Linked DNA regions of Homo sapiens. The protein of the gene in region 1 interacts with the protein of each later gene in a pairwise test. Each region holds a gene or a part of one and is shown on either strand. Other genes may lie near its edges.

Region 1 (3,652 bases):
CCTCCGTAAGTATGGTCTTGACATGGTCACCGATAGAAACATGGAAACATCTGCAAACTTGCCGTTACTCGTGTGTCCGATCTGACTGTTTCTTGTATTTTTTTCTAGTCTGCCCTTACTAGGATGAACTGTACACATCAGTTCATCCTTTTTAAATGAGCATGAGGTTATTTTGGGTTGTTAGGTGTTACAAACACACTAATGTGTTTTTGTCTATTAGAGCAGCATGGCCCAGTTGCCAATGGAAGAACTCAACAGAATCCAGGAATACCTTCAGAGCAGCGGGCTCGCTCAGAGGTAATGCTGGAAACACAGGTCGTCCTTGTGTTAGGACAACCCAGGATATAAAGGATATAGATTTGTACGGGAATAAATTCACAGGACAAGAAATCGATGTGCCTTATAGGTGGGTTTACTGCAGAAGTGCCATAATAGAACCTTCCTACTTTTAAAACAACCAGATCTCACTTTCTAAAGAGTAAAGGATGACCGGCAGGATCACGTCTGTGACGTGAGTGGAGGCAGTTTGCACTCCTGGTGGCTGTTTGAGAGGTAGCATTTAGAATGCCTGTATTCACTGTCCTGTGATGAGTGGGAAAATAGGTTATCAGGTTTATCTTAGCAAAATCAAAGCATGTCATCTAATTGCTAAACAAGAGTTGGCAAATCTGAGAGACATTACTCAATCCTTGGCATGCAGGACTTACATCTGCATCCTGTTGCCATTTTATGTCTTCAAAGCATTTAATCATTTAGTTGTGTTTGCAAAGTCTTTGAGAAGCCTTTGTCAGAAATCCCTACATCTCCTATGTGAGTGTATTTCCATGACTGCAGAATAAGTTAAACTTTTACCTTTTTCCTTCCCTTGCGGGGCGGGGTGGGGGGCAGGGATTGTGTGTGTGAGAGGGAGAGAGAGACAGCAGAGAAGGAGAATATAATTATCATGCTGTGTACTTTGAGCTGAAACTGCAAAAAAGGAAAAACACACAAAAATTATTATGCTTTTCAGTCTTTAGAGTACCTTGTCTATTATGCTTTTCAGTCTTTAGAGTACCTTGTTGATGGTGTTTTTAAATGGGATTGGGCACAATTAGGTGGACAGTTTGGGATGATTTTTCAGTCTGTAGGGCCAAGCTCTTTTGTAATTTGCATTATGAAGTTGTCACTCTCATAGCAGATGGCGGGAGATAAACTATTATTACTTTTTGACCCTAGACTTAGTCTTCAGTCCAGATGAGGGAGATTAAAAGATTATAAATATCTTGTGCCAGATGAGGTGATTTTATTTTGAAATGACCATGAATTCCTATCAGTTGTCTTACTGGGATATTTGATAGTGGAATTTGTGCATTTGAGTCTTAGATGATCTGTTTTACATTTATTAAGAAAGCCTTTATTAGCTTTTATACTGTGTATTGCCTGTTGCAGTGTTTGAGTATAAATGAAATTTCTGGAAAATATTAATGGAGTACAAACTGTGATACTTAAAAGTAAACTAGGGCCTGCATTTGTATCATGACCTGTTTGAGTATTGATGAGAAGATAGCTGTGAAGAAAAAGGTTTAAACAAGTGTATTTTCCTTTAAGAAGCCACTAATAGTGCATCTCCTTAGAGTGTATATTTCTAGAATCCTAGTGTGCAGAGTTTAGACTAAGACTAAAAAAAAAAAAAAACAAATTATACTGTAATTTCATTTTTATTTGTATTTTAGACACCAAAGGCTCTATTCCCTGCTGGACAGGTTTCGTCTCTCCACCATGCAAGACTCACTTAGTCCCTCTCCTCCAGTCTCTTCCCACCCGCTGGACGGGGATGGGCACGTGTCACTGGAAACAGTGAGTCCGGACAAAGTAAGTGTCCAGCGTGTCTGCATGGGAGGCACAGGGCGCTGAGTGCCTCTGTCACCTGTGGCAGATACAGAGAGTGCAGAGGAGGTGCCGTGGACCCAAGGAGTTCTGGCGCTCGGCTCGGCTCAGTGAAGCTGTGGTTAGAGACGTGGGGGGCCATCAAGGTCTGAGGGAGCCAAGCAGTGCTGATGTGGGACCCTTTTGGTAGGAGTGTGGGGTGAGTAGTTAGTGGGTGAATCAAGGAATAGTCGGCCGTGGCCTGCAGGCCCCTGACTGCACAGGCCTTCAAGCACATGTCAATGCCGTTAGCCTCCCTCCATCTCCTCATACCTTCTGGCCACCTGTGAGTTGCACTGCCACTGCCAGCCATTCTGGTATGTTGTCAGCACCTCCACTGCTCATACCTCATGGTTAGGGACCACCTGGAGCCTTGGTAGAGCCTTGGTAGAGCCTTGGTACTCTACTTTCCTGGACAAAGTTCAGCTTATGAATATGAATTTAGATTTCAAAAACCAGCAGCCCAAGTATAAGAAAGCGAAGGTTCAGTCCTGCCTTCTTAGGCTCTATTCGCTAAGCACCTGCCCTGCCCTGGTTGCTGGGGAGAGATGAGTAAAGCAGACAACCCAGGAGAGGATGGCAAAGGGGCCGCTAACCCTTAGTGGTTTAGCTATATTTGGAAGGCCTATTGGAAGTTCACCAGGTGAAGGGGGAGGCTGTGAGGGTGCCCAGGCAGGTAACAGAAGTCCAAAGGGGAAAACCTGTGGTGTGGTGAGCCGTATAGCCACAGCCTGCCGGCCGGCAGCCCTCTCAGCCTAGTGCGGTGTTCCCAAGCACTGGCCTAGGCCTGTAGCTCCAGGGATGTGAAGTCCCCTTGAACGCCGCCCATCATGTTCCCCTTATCCATTTTTTTCTTCCCAGGACTGGTACGTTCATCTTGTCAAATCCCAGTGTTGGACCAGGTCAGATTCTGCACTGCTGGAAGGTGCAGAGCTGGTGAATCGGATTCCTGCTGAAGATATGAATGCCTTCATGATGAACTCGGTACGGGGGGAGCAGTGGAGGCAAGGAATCCTCAGCTTTTCTTGTGACTTCCAAGTGGGATTTGTCTCATCATCATGTGACCCACTTGTTGACAACACATGTTGGGGACTCCAGTCTGGGCAGGGACGGGATGTCGGAGAGACTCCACTCTGAATGGGGCCGGGAAGTGGGGAGGACTCCATTTCAGATGGGGTCGGGACATGGGGGTTATGCTGATCGAGACAGAAAAGCACATTGTTTCAGCCACATTAGAATCCACGGAGGTGTTGTTTTGAAATCCAGCTGGCCCCAAGGCTGGGTGTATGGTTTGGGATGAGAACTATCTGGCCTCCACTGGAGGAACAAACACAGGATGTTATCATCTAAGCTCCATGGCCAAGACAGAATGGAAGTCAAGGTTGCGTATTTGCCGTAGACTTCAACACAGTGTCGTAATGCGTGACGTCAATAACTTGTTTCTAGTGTCTTGGAAGTTGATCTTTAGTCGTAAAAGAGACCCTTGGATGCAGCGAGATTTCCTCTACTCACACCTCTGTTAGATGTAGTGAGGTTCTTCACCCCCCAACCCCAGATGTCAGAGGGCACCCTGCGCAGAGCTAGGAGGCCATGCAAAGCCTTGGTGTCCCTGTCCCTCACCCGTGGGCAGGTCCTGTGAGCAGTGGGGGGGCCACCTCTTGGGTATGGTGCAGCCATGGCCCAAGCAGGGCTTCTTCTCAGACCTACTAGGACGGGAGAAACCTCCTGGTGCTTTAGCCCTGCGTTG
Region 2 (3,081 bases), on another chromosome or scaffold:
AAAAATAAAAAGCTAGCCAGGCATGGTGGTGTGAACCTGTGGTCCCAGCTACTTGGGAGGCTGAGGTGGGAGGATCGCTTGAGCTCAGGAAGTCCAGGCTGCAGTAAGCCGTGATCACACTGCTGCACTCCAGCCTGGGTGACACAGCAAGACTCCATCTCAAAAAGAAAAAAAGAGAGAGAGAAAAAAAAGGGGCTGTTGGCATCTTTGAAGAAGGGACTGGGGGAGCCCTACTTCAGAGCCAGTCAGTGGGGAGCAGCTACATCCTTCAAAAGGAATAGCAGGTGGTGTCCCCCAGCCTGGCTGACCTGAAGGTGTAGTAGAGAGCACAAGGGGTGCAGTCCTGGAACTGGGGCCTAACGAGAGGTATTTGTGGTTCCCCAACAAAAGCCCTGTCCAGCCCTCCCTGCCCCATACACTGCATACAGACATCAAGGCCAGGTGGCTCTGGGAACAGAAGTGGGCGCGAGGCCCTGGGGAAAGTCTGGCTGGGTAGAAGGTCAGTATAGTCCATCTCAGGGTGACAGGTTGTATCACAGGGCCCCAGGGGCCCCACAGGAGACCTGGCAGTCAAGACAACAGGGGCCAGCTTGGCTTGTGTGTGAATCTCTTTATTGTTTCTCTCCAGAGCCCCTGCAGCAGGGGAGGGGAGGGCGTGGGGAGGTGGGCGCCCCTCCCACCAGCCTGAGACCGCTCTCTGCCTCTCTCCTCTCCTCTCTTCTCCAGCATCTCACCCACTTTCTCTCCTTCTCAATCTCCTGCTCCCACCTCCAGCACCTTCGGGGATTCCCTCTTGTAGCCCCTGCTTTCTAAGTCCACCCTGGGCTGGGGAAAGGAAAGTAAGAGACCACGGGGACAATTTCAAGCCCCCCAGTCTCCACAGGGGCTAGTCCCCCTGGCTACCTGCCTGGCTTTCTCTCTCCTGGGCTAGGGGCTGGGGAGGTCTGCGGGGCTCAGTCCTGGCCCTGCAGTATCCCAACACCCTGCTCTGGGGCTGTCTCCAGAGCCAAAGGCTAGTGCCTGAGGTCACAGAGGTGGGAGGGACAGGGCCACCGCTCCCGCCTGGGCTCCATCCAGCACAAGAGCCAGGCTCACTCACTGCCAACAGCCAAGGCTCACAGCTGGGGTCCGCAGAGGTGGCCGGGGCATGCCCTGTGACCAGGCAGGGATGGGCTATGTCGCTGTTGGGGACCACGAGGGATGGCCAGTGAGGAGGGGTCAGAGGCTGTGAGGGGAGGACTGAGGCTGGGTGTGGTGTCCTGGGATGGAAGAAGGCTGGCTTCAGGGAGCAGTGAGGACAGGGGTGAGGACGGTCTCTGGTGGCAGAGGGTCTCTGTCTTTAGAGCACTTCATGCTGCTGCTGTGTGGCCTCACTGACGACCTGGGGAGGAAGAGAAGCCCAGTCCAACCATGTGCTAGCCAGAGAATGGAGCCTCAGCCCTGAGCCATCCCCACCCCAGGGCCGCAGGATCTCTCTTGCCCCACTAGCCAGGGACCTAGACCAGCACAGCTGGGTGGAAGACAGTCCCCCCAGACACATCCATAGCCCCCACCAAGGGTAAGGAGCCCAGACAGACCACTTACCTCCCCATCCCGTGTCTCGATGGTCTTGATCATCACCGTCTTCTTGGTATGGACCTCAGAACCCCTTTGCTCAGGGCTGGTTTCTGTAACAGGGTCCATCGCACACTCAGCCTGACCAAGTCCAGGCTGGGCTATACCAGGGGCTGGGAGTCCATCTGGGGCCACATTGGGCAGAGCCCTAGCAGACCCCAACCCCCCTCAAGACAGGCTTGTTACTTCTTCAAGACTTTAACACCTTTCCTTCAGCCCAGCACCCAGCAGGTGGTTCTGCAGTCCCCAGCGCCTGTCCCATAGTTTAGATGGTCTCAGGAGCCAACAGATTTGCTCCATGTGCAGGATGGTGCAGGAGGGTAGGGGACACCTGAGGCCCAGGCTGCACAGCACTGACATTCCCCATCCCTCCTAGTTCCTCTCCACCCCCAGGCCCCAGGAGAGCCCTGCACACATTTGTCTCCTGGGACTCCCCTTCTTCAAGATAGAACCCCAAAGCCCAGTCTCAAGACACTCTTTAGAGGACCTTACAGTACCTATCTCCCTTTAAGATTTCAGGGCCAGGTGCGGTGGCTCACATCTGTAATCCCAGTAGTTTGGGAGACCGAGGCAGGTGGATCATGAGGCCAGGAGTTCCAGACCACCCTGACCAACATGGTGAAACCCCGTCTCTACTAAAAATACAAAAATTAGGGGGGCGTGGTGGCACATGCCTGTAATCCCAGCTACTCAGGAGGCTGAGGCAGGAGAATTGCTTGAACCTGGGAGGCGGAGGTTGCGGTGAGCCGAGATTGCACCACTGCACTCCAGCCTGGGCGACAGAGCGAGACTCCGTTTCAAAAGAAAAAAAAAATTCAGATGAGCAACTTGATGTCTTAAAGTGAGACAGAGCAGGAATAAGGCACTGACTCATTGTGCTGATGCTCAGTCACTTGCCATTCTGTGCCTCAGTTTCCTCACTGAGGACACGGAGTGAAGTGGTACCAACCTTATCATGGCCACAAAGCTATTGATTTGGAAAAGCACTGTGCAATGTGGGTGGAGTTTTTTGTACTATGAAGTTTTAAATGCAAGACTCATACTTGGTGTCTGTATAAACAACTAACTGAAAAGAGAGGCTCTGAGTTGTGTAGGAAAGGTCAAATGGAGGTCCTTGGTATTATGAGTTTGGTGCTTACGAATTTCCTTAGCTAGCAACCAGCCTGTGATGAATGTTGTGACTCGCTGGAGCGCAGCGTGTTTTTTTTCCTGATGGAAATGTACATCGAAGATAGAAAAGGTTTGATCTAGGAAAGGAGAAGCTGCCAAGGACTCCGACTTGCTTTCCTAATGCATCATTATCGTGTGTTTCTCTGCTCTCTGGGGTTGGAAAGCCACCCGATCTGCGTATTACTAATGTCAAAATGGCAGAGTGCCCTAAGAGCTCGTTCTTTTCATTGTTTGGCTTTGCTAAGATTTGGCATTTTTTTCCAAACGTGCATCCAACATCTTGCTCCAGCAAACTGG

The links. Proteins that work in one complex are often made in the same cells at the same time.
Region 2: the proteins of HTT (region 1) and DES interact in binary tests that used the Homo sapiens proteins (3 or more experiments, as listed by UniProt).

What each region holds. Positions count from the first base shown.
Region 1 is NC_000004.12:3,207,061-3,210,712, forward strand, and holds part of HTT (huntingtin), read left to right. Parts: intron 1-220; coding exon 221-297; intron 298-1,712; coding exon 1,713-1,851; intron 1,852-2,766; coding exon 2,767-2,889; intron 2,890-3,652.
Region 2 is NC_000002.12:219,424,249-219,427,329, reverse strand, and holds the end of DES (desmin), read right to left. Parts: intron 1,668-3,081; coding exon 1,585-1,667; intron 1,382-1,584; coding exon 1,340-1,381; 3' UTR 778-1,339; coding exon of another isoform or gene 751-777; 3' UTR 596-750; downstream 1-595. UniProt on the Homo sapiens protein: Muscle-specific type III intermediate filament essential for proper muscular structure and function.